Linked DNA regions of Homo sapiens. The protein of the gene in region 2 purifies or fractionates together with the protein of the main gene of each other region. This does not show direct contact. Each region holds a gene or a part of one and is shown on either strand. Other genes may lie near its edges. The genes, in order: LAPTM4A, SUN3, PCYOX1L, GAS6 and TBC1D9.

What was found.
Region 1: the proteins of SUN3 (region 2) and LAPTM4A purify together in Homo sapiens (affinity purification with mass spectrometry; one large-scale study listed by BioGRID and IntAct). This does not show direct contact.
Region 3: the proteins of SUN3 (region 2) and PCYOX1L purify together in Homo sapiens (affinity purification with mass spectrometry; one large-scale study listed by BioGRID and IntAct). This does not show direct contact.
Region 4: the proteins of SUN3 (region 2) and GAS6 purify together in Homo sapiens (affinity purification with mass spectrometry; one large-scale study listed by BioGRID and IntAct). This does not show direct contact.
Region 5: the proteins of SUN3 (region 2) and TBC1D9 purify together in Homo sapiens (affinity purification with mass spectrometry; one large-scale study listed by BioGRID and IntAct). This does not show direct contact.

The regions. Positions count from the first base shown.
Region 1 is NC_000002.12:20,048,815-20,052,914, forward strand, and holds the start of LAPTM4A (lysosomal-associated transmembrane protein 4A), read right to left. Parts: upstream 2,815-4,100; 5' UTR 2,707-2,814; coding exon 2,596-2,706; intron 1-2,595. UniProt on the Homo sapiens protein: May function in the transport of nucleosides and/or nucleoside derivatives between the cytosol and the lumen of an intracellular membrane-bound compartment.
Region 2 is NC_000007.14:48,022,601-48,026,117, forward strand, and holds part of SUN3 (SUN domain-containing protein 3), read right to left. Parts: intron 3,339-3,517; coding exon 3,277-3,338; intron 1-3,276. UniProt on the Homo sapiens protein: As a probable component of the LINC (LInker of Nucleoskeleton and Cytoskeleton) complex, involved in the connection between the nuclear lamina and the cytoskeleton.
Region 3 is NC_000005.10:149,361,044-149,364,560, reverse strand, and holds part of PCYOX1L (prenylcysteine oxidase 1-like isoform 1 precursor), read right to left. Parts: intron 1,925-3,517; coding exon 1,718-1,924; intron 526-1,717; coding exon 351-525; intron 1-350. UniProt on the Homo sapiens protein: Likely to have oxidoreductase activity. Required in the mevalonate pathway to regulate prenylation and enhances the bactericidal activity of neutrophils.
Region 4 is NC_000013.11:113,826,074-113,829,590, reverse strand, and holds part of GAS6 (growth arrest-specific protein 6 precursor), read left to right. Parts: intron 1-879; coding exon 880-1,044; intron 1,045-2,426; coding exon 2,427-2,595; intron 2,596-3,517. UniProt on the Homo sapiens protein: Ligand for tyrosine-protein kinase receptors AXL, TYRO3 and MER whose signaling is implicated in cell growth and survival, cell adhesion and cell migration.
Region 5 is NC_000004.12:140,676,369-140,679,885, forward strand, and holds part of TBC1D9 (TBC1 domain family member 9), read right to left. Parts: intron 3,476-3,517; coding exon 3,247-3,475; intron 2,836-3,246; coding exon 2,574-2,835; intron 734-2,573; coding exon 526-733; intron 1-525. UniProt on the Homo sapiens protein: May act as a GTPase-activating protein for Rab family protein(s).

The DNA.
Region 1 (4,100 bases), on a different chromosome or scaffold from region 2:
GCTTCTGAGAATAAAATGCACTACTTGGACAAGCCTTCTTTGCTTCGAAGTATTATACTACAGTTTGGCTTAGGTGGTCTTGCATCATAAGTGTTACATGTCTCCCCAAGTTGGTAGAGACTGTCTTTACACTGCTATGGTATTCAAGCTACTCTTTTGAAAGTCATCAACAAAACTATAATAAACAAAACCAATGGCCTTTTTCCAGTACTTATTCTGATTAGAATCTGATATTACTGATCACCTTCTCCTCCTCCTCATCACTGTACCATATGTTTTTCATATCTGTGCTCCAAGTTTGTGATACCATAAATATCTTAAGGGCAGATGCTGTGTTAGACAAGAAACATTTGAGAGTCTAGCACTTAGCAGGTAATAGGAAAACAAGGCAAATGACACATGGCCCCTGTGATTTATTCCTTTTGTTTGTCCACCAAAGCCTTTTACACTGCAGGTGGTCAGTAAATCTCTTAATCAATTTAAGACAGGTCAAACGATTTAAGAAGTTTACAATAAAATGTTTTACACTAATCTGAGAAGTCTATGCAAAGTAAGAACAGCTATGGCATCTTTTTAAAATTGTGAAACTAAAGCATGGTCTTCAGAGGTATGTGAACCCTTCTCACAACAAGGGCTTAAAGTAGGGAACAGATGTAAACTCCTCACTCCCTATTTTGTAAGAATAAGCGCCCGTAATGAAGTTTTTCTCTCTGCATTTTGAGTTTCCTGTTTGTAGTTCCCACTTTATCCTGCTATTCTATTCATTTTCTAGCTGAGCCCACAGCATCAAAAAATCTGCCTGAGAAAAACTGAAAAGAAATACAGCCAATTACATTCGGATGGTTGAAATAGAAATGGTGGTATTCTCTTCTTGAGGAGTTAGGAATCCTTTGTTCTGTGAGTGGAGGGAAGGATCTGAGAAGAAACAGGAAGACTAAGACTGCAGGAGAGAGCCAGGTCGATGGATTCTCTTAGTTAAATAGGAAAGAAAGTCATCTTCTGGGGGTGAGGAAGACGGAATTGAGTAATAGCCTTGAGGATCCTCAAGGTTTGAATTATTCATTTAGGGAAATAGAAGACAGAGCTAAGGACAAACAAAAGAAATGAGACCCAGCCCCTCAGCAAAATGGAGAAGCTATAAAAGGAAGTTAGAAACATAATGCAGCTGATGGTCATTAACTCTATGTTTAGTATTCCAAATCAGTTAAAATACAGAACGAAAGAGTCTCTGAGGGAAAATGTGATATAGTTCTGTCAATAAGGCGGTATTTCCGAATATAAAAGTACAGGAAACATGAAAATAAACTCAGCACAAGCAAACCTACACATTCGTGTTGTTTTTTAAATGTACATCAGAAACAAGACGGTAAAAAACAACAGGGCAGGTAGCAGTCATGTGGAGTCAGGTAGTCCCCCGGGGGTGGGCCATGAAACAGTATCTGCCTCATTTAAGATGATTCTCATCTGGCGTTTGTCCAAATGCTTACTAATGATTTCAAGTCAATGAGTGGGGAGAAGCAGCAAGTACAGAGAAAACAGATTGTGTCTGGGATAACTCTCTTCCTCTTTTGCAGTTAAGTATCAAAAACTGCACAGTATCACCAACGTCACCCACACAACCACATTCGCGAAGTCATTAAAGTGGCCAAGTCGACCATGTAGGAAGTTTGTCACGGCTTCGGCAAAATCATAATAACCTAAAACTACCTAAACTGAATCCCATATTTGGAAGTCATAGACAAGTTAGGTTTAATGTGCATGGATACTATAAATGGTGAATTACAAAAGAAAAAATCACAAACTTATTACTAGTGAATCACCAGGCAACAACAGTGTCAACTTGGTTAGGACAGAATCACACAGATCTTGGAACCCAGGAGATACCGGGGTAGGTGGCCAGGATGGAGAGGGCTCTCAATAAAGGTCTCTGTAAAAACAGCCGGTCGGCTACGAAAAGCACCTACTGCGCAGGGAGGAGGCTGCACCAGGACAAAAGCTGGTCAGGCGTCAACTCAGGCAAAAGCTATCGCCCCCAAGCGATTCTGGAGATGCAAGAGAGGCATGAAACAAAACAAAGTCCAAGAAACGCGGACAACCGGGTTACCGCTGGATCTTTCGCTTTCCCAACGGGAAGACCAATGTCGAAACTAGACTGCGTTTACCAAGGTCCGCTCCTAATTATTTCATTAGAGGAAAAAATTCCAGGGAGCACTGGATAGGAGGAAGGGAGATGCTGCCTTTCAGATCGTAGAAATACAACAAGAACCAAAACAGAGGAATTCCCACCAAATCCTACCACCCTCGTCCCTTCGCCTGCAAAGCCTCTGCTCTCCCAAGCCCGCTTCTCTCCTCAAATTCTTGCCAAAGAACAATCTCCCCATGCTTACCACCGCCCCCCGCTCCCCCGACTCCGATTCCTGAACAAGGTTACTTTCCCAAAGTCCTTGGACTTCATCCAGAGTTGGCGCGCCTTAAAAAGCAGCGCCCCTCCAAGTCCCCGCCCCACCCAACACCCCGTTTCCAGTCTCACCCCCTCCGCACCAGGCCCCGCTCCCCAGGCCCCCCGGACATACGCGCCACGCCTGCCCGCCTTACCATGTACCAGGTCCCCAGGATGATCGTCCCGGTGCGGACATGGCAACAGCCGCAGCACCGGGTGCTGTAGAACCGGTCACTGCGGTTCCGCTTGAAACTCATGGACACCATCGTAACAGGCGGGCCTCCTTCTTGGCCGGGCCCCTGACAAACGTTCTCCACCCGCAGCCAAACTCAAACGGCTGTTTCACGGCCTCCAAAACCCAACGACGCGTCTTCAAACCCGCCCCCGGCTCGTGCCCCTGCCAGCTTCTTCGCGCCTGCGCACTGAGCGCAGCGACTTCGGCTTACCCACCCCTCTTCCTCCACACAGGCCAATGGGGAGCGGAAGGCTGGATGGACCGGACTTCTGATTGGAAGAACTTGGGGATTGACAAGACCTCACGCCCAATTAGAAGTGCAACTCGCCTCAGCGAGTCTCCGCCTGTTACGCGAAGGCAAGGGCTGGTTCTCGGGCCTAGGATAGTTGGGGATAGGTATGTCCCCGTAGTGCACTATTCCCGAGATGAGACCCGCAAGAAAAGAGGCATTTAATGGAAAAAGGGAGACACGAGACAGCGCGGATGGCAGAAAGCGGGCACAAGGGGCTTTTCTGAGCAATGTGTGCCACGTACTGGATGGGAAGCGTCACAGGCTGATAACGTGACCTTTGCGCGCAGCTCAATTATTGCGCGGGCTGGGGGCGGGGCCTGCGGGGAAGGGACAGAGCCAAGCCCAGCCTTGAGCCATCCTCGCCCCTGTGGCGGAAATGGGAGGGTGCCTGGAGGAGTGGAGGGATTGGATTTACACCCTCTTTTCCCTCCGAAGCCTCCTTGGTGGGGGCGAAGAAAGACCATCCAACCCTGCCAAAGGCAAAAGGATTAAGGATAAATGAAAGCAAGATAATGTAGAAGAACTACTTAGCTGCTGGGTTTTTGGAGATGAGTGATTTTTTTTTGTAGGGAGAAATTATGAAACACATTGAAATGGACAAAAAATTACTGAATGTCTTCAATGAAAAAACAGCCATAGTTTGGCACACCGTCCCGGGCATTCTGTTGCTAGAGGGGCTGTCCGCTTTTCTTTGTGGTGCTCTGCACAACTCGGTAAGACCCCTCGTATTGTTATCTTACCCTTCCTTGGGAAAAGCCATTTTGCATCGATTTGTAAATTCATTCCCCAGTCCTGATTCAACAATATAGATGGGTGCTTTAAATTCTGCTTAGAGCTGGTTCTAACAGCTTACTGGTCCCCGGGTTAATGAGTAAATAAATTTTTTACACGTGTTCATTTTGTATTTCTGTGAGACCTGTGACTTCACCGTTAAAAAATGTATTTATCATTTAATGCTTTGGTAAACACACTTCTTTTCAGAGAATAGAAAGGGCTTCCCTTCTGCCAGGGCATATTCTTAGCCAGAGACCACACTGAATTCAGAGTAAAGGTTATTTCTTTGGCATGGCTTCTTTGAACACTGCCTGAAATTATGTATGTATTTGTTGATTATCTCCCCAATAAAATACAAA
Region 2 (3,517 bases):
GAAGAAATAATGGCTGAAAAAGTTCCAAAGTTGATAAAAAGCCATGAATCTACACATCCAAGAAACTCAACAAACTTCAAGTAAGACAAACTTAAAAAGACTCATGCTGAAACCTATTATAATCAAACTGTTGAAAGACAAAAACACAGAGATAATCTTGAAAGCAGAAAGAGAGCAATGCCTTGTTATATAGAAGAAAGTCTTTGTTGGATTATCACCTGATTTTTTTCTTCAGAAACTATAGAGGCCAGAAGACAGTGGGATGACATATTTAAAGCGTTGAAAGAAAAAAAATTCTATATATGAGAAAACGATTCTCCCAACTGCAGAAAAAATTAACATATTCTAAGATAAAGAAAAGCTCATGGTGTCTCTATGACTAGACCAGCCCTTCAGGAAGTGCTAAAGGGATTCCTTCAGGCTGCAGTGAAAGGACATTAGAGAGTAACTCAATGCCGCATGAAGCAATCAAAATCTCCAGTAAAGGTAACAGAGAGGTAAATATGAAACCAGTATTATTGTTTTGGGTTTGTAACTCCTTCTTTTATTTCTTTCATAATTTAAAAGACAAATTTATAAAGCATAATTATAAATCTATGTTTATGGGTACCCAATGTGTAAAGATGTAATTTTTGACAACATAAAGAGGAGTAAATCCCAGTGAATACAGATCATAAGGAGGAAAAAAAAGAGGAGCAGAGCTGAATAGGAGCAGAGTATTTGCATTCTATTAAAGTTAATTTGGTATAAATTTAAACTATATTGTTATAAATGTAGGGTCTCAGTTGAAATCCCCATGGTAACCACTAAGAAAATATCTAAAAAACGTATACAAAATGAAACAGATCAGAATCAAAAGAGTGCACTACAACAAAGCAATTAAACACAAAAGAAGGCAGTAAAGAAGGAAATGAAGAACAAAAAAGGTATAAGATATAGATTTTCTAAAAAATAGAAAAATGGCAGAAGTAAGTCATTCCTTAGTAGTAATTAATGTAAATGAAAATGGATTAAACTTTCCAATCAAAAGGCAGAGGCTGGCAGAATGAATTTAAAAACATGATTCAACTATATGCTGCTTACAAGAGATTTACTTTAGAATCAAAACTGAAATTTATAAAACATGGCTGAAAGAAATTAAAGAAGACCTAAATAAATGGAAGGACAACTTGTGTTCATGAATTGGAAGATTTACTACTGCTAAGATGGCAACACTACCTAAAGCTGTCCACAGATTCAAAGTAATCTTTATCAAAATCCAAACAGCATGATACTGGATAATGATAGACATATAGACTAATGGGCTAGAATATCCAGAAATAAACCCATTCAACTATAGCCAATTCAGTTTTTGGAACAGAGGACAAGACATTCAAAGATTCCTATAGGGAAAGAGTAATATTTTTAGCAAATATTACTTTGGCTTTCCACATGCCAAAAAATGAAGTTGGATCCCTTGCATCATATACAAAAATGAACTCAAAATGGGTCAATTACCTAAATATTATAAGAGCTAAAACCAGAAAACTCTTTTAAAAAGGTTTGGCAATGGATGCTTCAATATGACACCCTCAAAATTACAAACCTTCGTGTATCAAAGAAAGTGCAAAGACAACCTAGAATGAAAGACAACCTAGAATGAAAGAAATGTTTTCAAGTGATATATCTGAGAAGGATTTGGTATCTAGAATATATTAAAAAACTCTTCCAACTCAACAACAAAAGGACAAACAACCTAATCAAAAATGAGCAAAAGACTTTAATGGACATGTCTCCAAGGAACACATACAAACGGTCAATAAGCACATAAAAAGATGCTTGACATCATTAGTCATTAGAGAAATCAAACCATGATGAAACATGACTTTTCATCCATCAGGTGGCTGTAATTTAAAAAAAAAGGAAAAAAATGATAGTGGAAATGTAGAGAAATTGGACTTCTTGTTTTAATCCATTTGTGTTGCTGTAAAGGAATATCTGAGGTTGGGTAATTTATAAAGAAAAGAGGTTTATTTGGCTCACAGTTCTATAGGCTGTACAAGAAGCATGGCACCAGCATCTACAACTGGTGAGGGTCTCCAGCTGCTTCCGCTCATGGTGGAAGGCAAAGGAGGAGCCAGCATGTGCAGAGATCACATGGTGAGAGAGGGAGCAAGAGAGAGCTGGGAGAAGTCAGGTTCTTTTTAACAATTAGCTCCCACAGGAACTAATAGAGTGACAACTCATTACTGTAAGGATGGAACCAAGTGATTCATGAGGAATCTGTCCTCATGACCCAAATGCCTTCCATTAGGCCCCCACCTGCAACACTGGGGTTCAAATTTCAACATGAGGTTTGGGAGGACAGATATCCAAACTATAGCAGTCCTCCTACACTGCTTGTGGGAATGTAAAATAGTGCAGCCATTGAGGAAAACAGTCTGGTGGTTCCTCCCCAGAAATCTCATTCCTATGTATATACTTGAAAGAATTGAGAACAGGTGTTCAAATAAGCACACATACACACTTATGCACAGCATCACTATTCACAATAGCCTAAAGATAAAAGCACTCTAAATGTCCATGAATAGATAAATGGATAAACAAAATGAGGTATATACATACAATGAAATATTATTTAGCTACAAAAAGGAATGAGGAACTGACACATGATAGGATATGGATGAACCTTAAAAACATTATGCTAAGTGAAAGAAGGCAGATAAGAAAGATCACATGCTATATGATCTTTTTTGTAACAATAACTGGGTTGAAACTTTTATTTTAATGGGAGATACATGCCTTAAGTTGTGAATATATTAAAGAACAATTTTCCAGTGTGCTAGGGGTGGTGGATGGTGATATTTCCCGATACGAAACTACAAACTGCACATTCTGCAGTAATTTATTTGGGAACTGTGTGATGAGCAAGAGTCTCTGGTTGTCAAAACCTCCCAAGTGGAGTCACCTAAATTTAGAAAAGGTAAAATGTATGTTTGCAATAAATATATTAGAAATTCTTAACTTTAAAGCAACATCTATGACTAAAAAATTTGCAAAAAGCAAACCACAATTCTAAAAGAAAAATCTCCTTTCTAAATTTTCTATTAAAAAGCCAGTATTACTCTTACAATCAGAAATAAAAAACAAACGAAAAAGCTTTGAGAATGTGCAGGTCACCTCCAGCACTTTCCGTGGCATTTATTTACAAATATGAGTCATTCCGTTGAGATCTCTCTCACCAGGCAGACATAACCTGTGGAATGGTTTTAAGGATCATTACTTAGGAAGACTTACCTACAAGAAGAAAAGTCAGTGTAAGCATTGTACTTAGAATAATCTTCCATGATCGAGTTACCCTAAAAGAATAAAAACAATGATTAGAAAAAGAATTTAACAACATCATGCATTTAACTTGGACTTTAGCCACTACACTCACGTCAACAAACTTACTTATTTTCATTCTTGCTTAATCTAGGTTGAGTCTATGAATTACTTTAATTTCCAATCCACTATTTTTTAAATTGAGAGAAGATCG
Region 3 (3,517 bases), on a different chromosome or scaffold from region 2:
GCCTCCTTCAGAGGGGGCCTTGTTCTGCTCTCTTCCACCTGCTGATTCACTGACTCGCATCCCAGTTCAGCCCTTGTTAAGCGACTGAGTTTGCAACCCATGCTTTTATTAGTATCAGTGTAGTAGAGGGTAAGAAAATGAGAGTCAATGTGACAATACTAGGGAGACCATTACTGGACCAAATACGGCCATTCCTCATGCCAGGGGCTTGCTCTGAGCCTGCACTGAATTGTGCTGGCTCAATTCAGCAAGGACCTTTTCCTTTTTCACAAAGTACAGGCAAGCTGGTTCCTCCCCCACCTCTTCTCGGTTCCCCTGGAACGCCATCCCCACAGCTCTGCCAGCCCTACCTCATGAACTTCTCCATGACCTCCTCCACCCACATCTGCAGCCTCAGGAAGCTGATGCCATAGTGCCACCAGAGGCGGAAGAGGTTCAGCAGGTACCAGTCAGTCTCCTCCAGCATGAAGTGCTCCCCGCCGAAGATGGCGCTCCTGCCCACCACCTCGCGCCGGTGCCTCAGCCCTGCAGAGACAAAGAGGAGCCCCTCAGGTCCCCTCCAAGACTTGGGGCCCTCTTGATGCAAATGGACTGGTCCATTAAAGGAAACACAAATGCTATGGTTTGTTCATTTGTGCTGCTTGTTAATAAACAGTAAACAGATGCACTGGGAAAATGTTTGGACTACCAAGTCAATAAAAAAATGAAAATGAAAATAATGTAACATTTTACATTTTTTTTCCCCAGGAGGATCCACAAGTGAGGGAAATTCAGATTTTATCCCAGAATGTCCAGGGGGTGACAGCCACTGGGCTTGTTTGGAGATGGTGGCCTTGGGCACTGAGATCACTTGGAAGTTATCCTAGCTCCTTACAGCCATCCTGCACTCTGCAACTTGACAGAGCAGTGGACTCCTAAACACAGACAGAGCTGCTATGACTTGTTCCTTCCCCACCCCCACATACTACACACACTGCTCTCCACTTTAACAATACACTGTATCTTGGAGATTGCCCTGTATCTGGGCATAAAGACTTCCCCATTCTGACTGCTGAACAGCCTATTGTGTAGTTATACAATAATTTGTTTAACCCCAGGTCCTAGTGGATAGGCAGCTAGGATACTTTCAGCCTTTTGCTATTACAAACAATGCTGTAGTGAATAACTTGGTATCTATGCTACTTTGCACATCTGTAAGACCACCTGTAGCATCACTTCTGAGAAGCAGAGTTTCTGCATCAAACAGAACGTGTATTGGACAGATGCTGCTGGGTTTGAATCCCACCTCTCGCTGTAATGGCTTTAGCTTAAATCTATACATTTTCTGAGCCTCAGTTGCCTTAAGAGGAGATATAACACTCATCTTGCAGGTTGGTAGAGGGGAGCTGAGGTAATGCCTACATACCACCCAGAAGGTGCCTGGCAAGCACTAGCATGTGGAAGGTGATATAATCACGATTATTTAGAGGCAGCAAATTGAAAGGGAAAGAAACTGGCCTAGGAGTCAAACCTGAGTTCTAATCCCGGCTCTGCAACTAACTCACTGTGTAACCTCAGGCAAGTTCCTTCCCCTCTCTTGTTTCTGTTGCTCCATCTGTAAAATGAGATTGGGCCACATGACCTTCTGGCCTTGATGGTCTGGGAAGTCTGAGAAGGGCCCAGTGCTGTCACCAGCCCCAGGGCGCTGGGCACTGGAGCCCCAGGACTGACCACTCACCCAGCAGCTTGACGAAGTCCTGCATGTGCAGGCTCAGGGAGTGGAAGGAGGCAGCCCCGCTCTCATAGTGCTGCTTGTTGACTGAGATGGTGGCCAAGCGGCCACCCACGGTTCCCTTCTCGTACACGTCGATCTGCACCCGAGGTCCAAAGTGCTGCTGGAGAAAATGGGCCACAGCAGAGCCCCCAATCCCAGCCCCAACCACCGCTGTCAGCAGGCCCGGGAGGTAGGGAAGAAGAGAGACAGAACATGAGAGTGAGAGGCTGTAGTTCACACTTTGTATCCTCCTGCGCTGGTGGTTCCCAGGTGCTTAAATTTCCTAGGCTTATAACATTTCCAAAAGGAAATCTGCGGACTGAGTTGTCAGTAGAGCTATTAATAAGCAAAGGCAAACCTGAAAACTGCTGCCTACTATACTTTCGTTTCATAAAGAAAAAGGTATTTTGCAGCAAAAGACCAGCAAAGAATACTGAAAGTCAGGATGACCAATTAAAGAGAATAAATTTAGTTTTATATAAAACTCACTACCTTGCTTCTAACTTTCTTATTTCCCTATGAATTGTTAAAAGTTACTGACCAGTTCTGTTCAGTGATCAGTGTTTGGAAACCAGGCCTTAATCCAGGGATTGGCAAACTACAGCCTGCAGGCCAAATCCAGAAAGATGCCTGTTTTTGCAAACTAGAGTTTTATTGAAACACAGCCATGATGCTCTTTCTTTCAATTATTGTCTATGACTGTTTTCATTTTAGGCAGAGTTGAGTAGCTGCAACAGAGACTGCATGGCCTGAAAAGCCTAAAATATTTACTCTCTGGCCATTTACAGAAAAAAGTATGCCAACTCCTGGTCTAGTCCAACCTACTATCGGACACCTAAATCATCCTTATGTCTGTGTTTGTCAAGACTGGAATGTATCTGCCAGGCGCGGTGGCTCACGCCTGTAATCACAACACTTTGGGAGGCCTAGCGGGGGCAGATCACCTGAAGTCAGGAGTTCGAGACCAGCCTGACAAACATGGTGAAACCCTGTCTCTACTAAAAATACAAAATTAGCTGGGTGTGGTGGCGCATGCCTGCAATCCCAGCTACTCAGGAGGCTGAGGCAGGAGAATCGCTTGAACCTGGGAGGCGGAGGTTGTGGTGAGCTGAGATCGTGCCATTGCACTCCAGCCTGGGAAACAAGAGCAAAACTCCATCTCAAAAAAAAGAGACTGGAATGTACTCTATGATGGATTGTTCATTACCCTACAGGACACTATATTCCAGTTTGAAATCTTGTTACAAAGTTTCAGCTTTTTTGGGTCTTATCATACACTGTCTTTACTGTACCTCCTGCCTTCCTGTTATTTGTAAACTTGGTTTACATGCCATCACTATTCTCATCGAAGTCACTGATAAGAATGTTTCCTGGGACAGGGCTTGGAGGTGCTGCTAGGAAACCACTGCCTGGACAGACATCAATCAGTTTTTTTTCAAACAGGATCTGGCTCTGTTGCCCAGGCTGGAGTGCAGTGGCATGATATTGGCTCACTGCAAACCTCCCAGGCTCCCAAGTAGCTGAGACTACAGGCACATGCCACCATGCCCGACATATTTTTCGTAGAGATGAGGTTTCACCATGTTGCCCAGGCTGGTCTTGAACTCCTGAGCTCAAGTGATCCTCCTGCCTTGGCCTCCCCAAGTGCTGGAATTACAGGCATTAGCCACTGTGCCTCACCTGACACTAATCATTAAACAGTCCTGTGAGAGAACTATAAACCAGCTATGAAGCTACTGAACTGGACTACCACCCTACCTATAA
Region 4 (3,517 bases), on a different chromosome or scaffold from region 2:
CCCTCTTGGCTCAGGTGTGGATCAGGTGGTCTCTCTGAAGTTGGGACCCTCTTGGCCCAGGTGAGGATCAGGTGGTCTCCCCGGGTCAGGTCCCTCTTGGCCCAGGTGAGGATCATGTGGTCTCCCTGAGATTGAGACCCTCTTGGCCCAGGTGAGGATCAGGTGGTGTCCCTGAGATTGGGACCTTCTTGGCTCAGGTGTGGATCAGGTGGTCTCCCTGAGGTCAGGTCCCTCTTGGCCAGGTGAGGATCAGGTGGTCTCCCTGAGATTGGGACCCTCTTCGCCCAGGTGAGGATCAGGTGGCCTCCCTGAGATTGGGACCCTCTTGGCCCAGGTGAGGATCATGTGGTCTGCCTGAGATTGAGACCCTCTTGGCCCAGGTGAGGATCAGGTGGTCTCCCTGAGATCGGGACCCTCTTGGCTCAGGGGAGGATCAGGTGGTCTCCCTGAGGTCGGGACCCTCTTGGCCCAGGTGAGGATCAGGTGGCCTCCCTGAGATCGGGACCCTCTTGGCCCAGGTGAGGATCATGTGGTCTGCCTGAGATTGAGACCCTCTTGGCCCAGGTGAGGATCAGGTGGTCTCCCTGAGATCGGGACCCTCTTGGCTCAGGGGAGGATCAGGTGGTCTCCCTGAGGTCGGGACCCTCTTGGCTCAGGGGAGGATCAGGTGGTCTCCCTGAGATCGGGACCCTCTTGGCTCAGGGGAGGATCAGGTGGTCTCCCTGAGGTTGGGACCCTCTTGGCCCAGGTGAGGATCAGGTGGCCTCCCCGAGGTCGGGACCCTCTTGGCTCAGGAGAGGATGAGTGTGGTTTTTCTCAGTTGGGAGCCCCTTCAGAACGTGCACTCCCATCTTTTCTCATGGCGCTGCCTCTCTTCAGATCTCTGTTGAGGAGCTGGCGCGGAATCTGGTCATCAAGGTCAACAGGGATGCTGTCATGAAAATCGCGGTGGCCGGGGACTTGTTCCAACCGGAGCGAGGACTGTATCATCTGAACCTGACCGTGGGAGGTATTCCCTTCCATGAGAAGGACCTCGTGCAGCCTGTGAGTACTGTACCTGTCCCTGTGTAGACGCGCCGTGTGCTGGGATCCCGGGAACGGTGTCAGGAAGCCTCAGTCACACCCTGCCCTGTGTTTACCATTAACCAGGTGTGAGGAGGACCTAGAGGAAGGAAAGGTTTCCTAGAGTTTGACAAAGTCGCCGTACAGCTATGTCATTAATTTTACCATCTCTTTTTATGAGACCTAAGTTTTCATCTGAATTGATAATAAAGTTGTCTATTTTTCAATGGAGATAAGACACAATTAAATTATTATTATTTTTTTTGAGACGGAGTCTTGCTCTGTTGCCCAGGCTGGAGTGCAGTGGCGCGATCTCGGCTCACTGCAAGCTCCGCCTCCCGGGTTCACGCCATTCTCCTGCCTCAGCCTCCCAGGCAGCTGGGACTACAGGCGCCCGCCACCACGTCCGGCTAATTTTTTTGTATTTTTAGTAGAGACGGGGTTTCGCCGTGGTCTCGATCTTCTGACCTCGTGAACTGCCCACCTCGGCCTCCCAAAGTGCTGGGATTACAGGCGTGAGCCACCGCGCCCGGCCGAAATTATTCTTTAACAGAACAGTAAACTTTTTTGGACAATTTCCAAGAACATTTTGGGTTTTGTAACTCTGCCGTGAGTCTCATAAGGGGAAAACAGCCATGATGGGCGGTCAGTGTGGGCCATTGCTCCAGGTCCCGCCTTCTCTCCCCTTCAGCACAGCACACGCCCGTGCCCCCGACCTGTGTCTCCAGCCCCCACGTGCTGACGTCTAAGCCGTCATCCTGGGTATTTTCACTTCCACACCAGGCAGGAGAAAGGCACGCATGTCTTCGCGTCTTTGGGTGCTGAGTGTCGGCAGTGCCTGTGCTGAAGCCACCCCTTCAGTGTTGTGAGGGGCACCTGCTCCCCAGGCCCACAGACTGCCTGGTGCCGGGACCTTCGGTGTTGTGAGGGGCACCTGCTTCCCAGGCCCACAGACAGCCTGGTGCCGGGACTTTGCCTGGCTGGACCCTCCTCGTTTCACAGATAAGGGGGTTGCCCTGATTTGCCCACAGCCATATTGAATATTGAATAATTCACATGAGTGTTGGATGGTTGAACAATCCATACTCTTTGACCTTAGACCCACATGGCCTTTTCAGTCCTTTCCTAGCTTTAAAATGAACCTTTAGTTCTTGAGCATACACCAGTGGAAATAGGTATTCTGCAGTGAGGCGTTGTGTAAAGTGAAGAAACCTTCTGTGAAATGGCCACCACCGATGGGACTGGCCCGTTTCTGCCGTAGAGCTGCACATACCAGGGCCGCGAAGGCGCCACCCACCGACTGGGGCATCCGGCATGGGGCTTCTCGCTCCCAGGAAGCCACGGAGATTTCTCTGCCTTTCCAGATAAACCCTCGTCTGGATGGCTGCATGAGGAGCTGGAACTGGCTGAACGGAGAAGACACCACCATCCAGGAAACGGTGAAAGTGAACACGAGGATGCAGTGCTTCTCGGTGACGGAGAGAGGCTCTTTCTACCCCGGGAGCGGCTTCGCCTTCTACAGCCTGGACTACAGTAAGTCTTGGCTCTTACCGTTGGGGTGGCTGTGGCTGCACCTTCAGACAGGCATACGCTGAAAGCAAGCAGACGGCCTCAGATGGCAGCGTCAGGACAAGCTGAGGCTCCTCCGGTTCCGGGGCAGGGATGGGTGGGCGGGGTGGGCGGAGGTGCGGGCAGAGGCCCACCTCTCAGGATGGCCATGCAGGTCACTCAGTTCAGAGTCAGCCAGTGAAGAAGAAATGAGAGAGATGTGCCGAGAAGGTGCCTGCGAAGCCAGTGCCAGGAGGCCGGGGAGAGAAGGTGCCTGCGAGGCCGGCGCCAGGAGGCGGGGGAGAGAAGGTGCCTGCGAGGCCGGCGCCAGGAGGCCGGGGAGAGAAGGTGCCTGCGAGGCCGGCGCCGGGAGGCCGGGGAGAGAAGGTGCCTGCGAGGCCAGCGCCGGGAGGCCGGGGAGAGAAGGTGCCTGCGAGGCCGGCGCCGGGAGGCCGGGGAGAGAAGGTGCCTGCGAGGCCGGCGCCGGGAGGCCGGGGAGAGAAGGTGCCTGCGAGGCCGGCGCCGGGAGGCTGGGGAGAGAAGGTGCCTGCGAGGCCAGCGCCGGGAGGCCGGGGAGAGAAGGTGCCTGCGAGGCCGGGGAGGCTGGGAGCCTTACAGGGTCCTTTGCAGAAAGTCCGGAGACAGCACAGCCTTAGGACTCGTCCAGGGGCACAGAGAAGCTCTCGGTAACATGGTGGACACCGTGGTCACCGATGACCCGGTGAGACAGCTACAATGGGAGGTGTGTAAAAACAGCCGTGAAGCTGCCTGGGGGACAGTGAACCTAGGCCTGAAAAAGGGAGGACAGGGTGGATGTGAGCTGCTGGCCCAGTCCTGTGACGCCACGCTGCCGCCCTCCCCAGTGCAGGCTCCGGGGGTGCTGCTGTGAGGATAGTGTTACTGCTCG
Region 5 (3,517 bases), on a different chromosome or scaffold from region 2:
TAGGCCGGGCACAGTGGCTCATGTCTGTAATCCCAGCACTTTGGGAGGCCAAGGTGGGTGGATCACCTGAGGCCAGGAGTTCGAGACCAGTCTGCCCAACATGGTGAAACTCCATCTCTACTAAAAATACAAAAATTAGCTGGGCATGGTGGCAGGCGCCTGTAATTCCAGCTACTCAGGAGGCTGAGGCAGGAGAATCGCTTGAACCTGGAGGGTGGAGGTTGCAGTAAGCTGAGATCATGCCACTGCACTCCAGCGTGGGTGACAGAGCGAGACTGTCTCTAATAAAATAAAATAAAAACAAAACCTACATTAAAAAACCCCCATGCAGCTTCTGGAAGAAGAGATCTCACAGGTCCCAGAGTCACAGCAGTGACAACAAATGAAAGAATGCAGGTGCCACCAAAGACGCATGAACATTCACCTGTGTTCAAAAGCCAATTGTTGGTAAAAAAATTATTCCTGGTTCACCCAGAAAAGTATTACAAATGAAACTTAAAATATCAATTTTTATCAGATACTTACCTCACGGAGCGGGATAATGAGGCTACATAAGTTCTCCTCCTTGCTGGTAAAACAGATGTAATTTGTGGACACAAACATCTGCCCCAAAATGTGCATTTTGTTAAATGGAGTCCAGAGAGTGCAGTCTGTGTGGCCATCTAATTTTTCATCTTTGGGCAGCCGGAAAAGTGCACGGTATCTCTCACTCTTTGCCCTGGCATCAAGATCACTGGAAAGCAATAATTACAATTCACATAAGAAAAATGTTTCCATACCTTCTAAATTATGCAGCAGCGGAAGTTCCCCCAGCCCATTTTCCACCTCCTCAATCTTGCTAGACTCATCCCCCGCTTCTCAGCTTTCTTTATATTGAAGTTAACCCCAACCTAATGACCCAAAAGCGTAATAAAATTATCTTATTATATTTCAGTCCCTTGCATAGTCACTTATAATCCATGTCTGTAAATGTTAAAGAATCATAGCAAAAATAAGCCTGAACAGGAAACTCTTCCTCTTTCTAAAGAAATGCAATACACTCTAAAGAGGTCACTGCATTTACTCTTATCCAAGCCACTTTAGGGGGGGCCTTATCTTTTAAGACCTAATGAGAATGCAAACCAGCCATATAAATCCACTGGGCCTCAGTGTCCACCCCAAATCGACAACAAAGCTGCAGGAAAAGACACAGGAACAACTCACCTTGGGCAACTATGGCTTCTGACCTTAGCTGGGTCTTCTGTTAACTACTATCTTTTCTCTAATGAGTTCTTTGTTCTTGCTCATCATGTCAGTTGTTTAAACCTCTCCCCTCAAGCTTCTACCTGACATCAGCCTCGTGATGGTCTAGTCTCTGACTTCATAGAGCAAAGGTCCATGATGCAGAAGCCCCCTCCAATTCCTTCCCTTCTGTCTCCAAAGTCACCTCCATCCTCACCTACTCTTACTTCCTCTCCATTCCAAAGGAAAAGGTATATCAGGACACACAAGCATCCTTTCCATGCTTTCTCTACAAAATATCACTTCTTAAATGATCAACTTTCTTATAACTATCTCTATGTCCCTTCCTGTCTCCACACCTACCCTCACCAAAATGCTCTTCCCATCTGCCTCCTTCATTTGATACTATGTTCAAATCTTTTTCATTCTAAAAAAAAAAGCAATCCTCCCCTCCTTTACCACTGAATTTCTTGAAAATGAAGTCTGTATTTGCCTAGTTCCCTTTCCTTGTCTTTTATTTTTTATTTGATCCGCTGCAGTAGCAGCATCTATCTTACACTGCTCTTTTGAACATGTCTCAAATCACCAAGGACATCTTAATTACAAAGACCTCTGGTTAGATTTCAACTACCAAATGCACATCAATGATTTCCAATTTTGTATATCTTACTGGACTGATCTCTACTTAGATGAGCTACAGGCACCTCAATTCAACATAATCAAAGCTGAGCTATCGTATCCCTTGGACATGCTCTTCCTTCTCTCATTCCCTGTGTTGATGAAGGGTAATTCCAGGCACATGGGGCATCAACTTTCCATCACCCTCTCTCTAGCTCTGCTCTCACATTCAGACTTTGAGGCTTCTCTGCAGCCTCTCCTCATCCCATGCCCTGCCACCTACTAGCCATGTGACAAAGTTACTTCTCTCTGTGTTTTCCCTTGTGTTTCCCCCATCGTCATCTTCCCTCTGCTTGAAATATCCAGGCATGGATATGTACCTGCACAGGTAACTTCTATCACCTCTTCAGAGCCCAGCTCAAAGCAGCCTCCACTGAGAGGCCTTTCTTACCCACTCTTCCCCATCTGGGCTGAGGCTATCACTCCCCATGTGTGCACCCACAGCACTGTGTTCACAGGACCAGAAGAGTGCCTGCTGCCTTGTGTTGGAGCAGGTCATGTCTGTCTCACTTTCTGAACTGGTAGCACCTCAGCTAGTCTTTTTTAGTTTTGTATCTATACACAGAAGAGTGTTCAGAACCCTTGAAGATCGTCAGAGAAGGTTACACTGAATAAATGAATGAGTGAGTTTCTCATTTCTAAAGTCTGGAAGATACAAGGTCTCTATCACCCACCGTTTTAGAGCAGACACTTTTTTAGGAGATTTCCTTTTGAGTTTGGGCAGGGATCGATCTTGTTCAAATCCCTCATTGTCTAAGAGTTGCCTCATGGCTATGTTGGCAAGCTGCTCCATTAACTTGAAGGTCTCGTTGATGTTGAGGAATACAGAGAAGAAATGCTCACTGGACCGTGTGCTCACTTTGATCACATCAGGCAGAAGCAGGGTGGCATTCTTCTCAAGCTGAGTGATGTCTACCCACCGGATGACCAGTTTCGCTGAGCACAAGGAACAAGCCTGGGTCAACATCTGATTCCTGAAAACGCTTTCAAGATATTGCAGTCTCACAACCCCACTCCCCCATCCCACTGAACTCCTTTGAGTTTATAATACCATATTTGTTTTGCTTGTTCATTTTAAGAGGTAAATCTGGGCCATGTGAATTCTGAGGTCAGAATTATAGATTTAATCCATGTCTACTGAATTAATTACACCTTTAGTGAATCTTTATTACTTAGTGACCATTTTGAACTGAAAAATAATTAAATTCACTTCAGTAGTAAAAAAAAATTAGTATTGACTTAGTTATAACTATAGATTTATTTCTGATATTTTGATGTGGTTTATGAGTTCAGGGCAAACCTCAGTAGACTTTCCAAAGTTTCCTGCTGAAATTTTAGATGACTTACCTTCCCTTCCCATAAGAAAAGAATAAAAGCAAAGGTGGTTAATGCTGAGGTACATCCAACCCTGACGGGGGACCTTCCCCTTCCAATAGCTGCAAGAGTAATAGTTGACGAGTTTCTCTTCCTCTGGCATCCCAAACAGCCTATGAAATTTCACAATGGCTTCTTTAAACTTCTCCGTGTCATCATCTTCCTTTACATCATTGATTTTGTTGTATTCTGCAATGATGCCCTAATAAGGAATAAAACACAAAGCACACAACTGGTATTAATA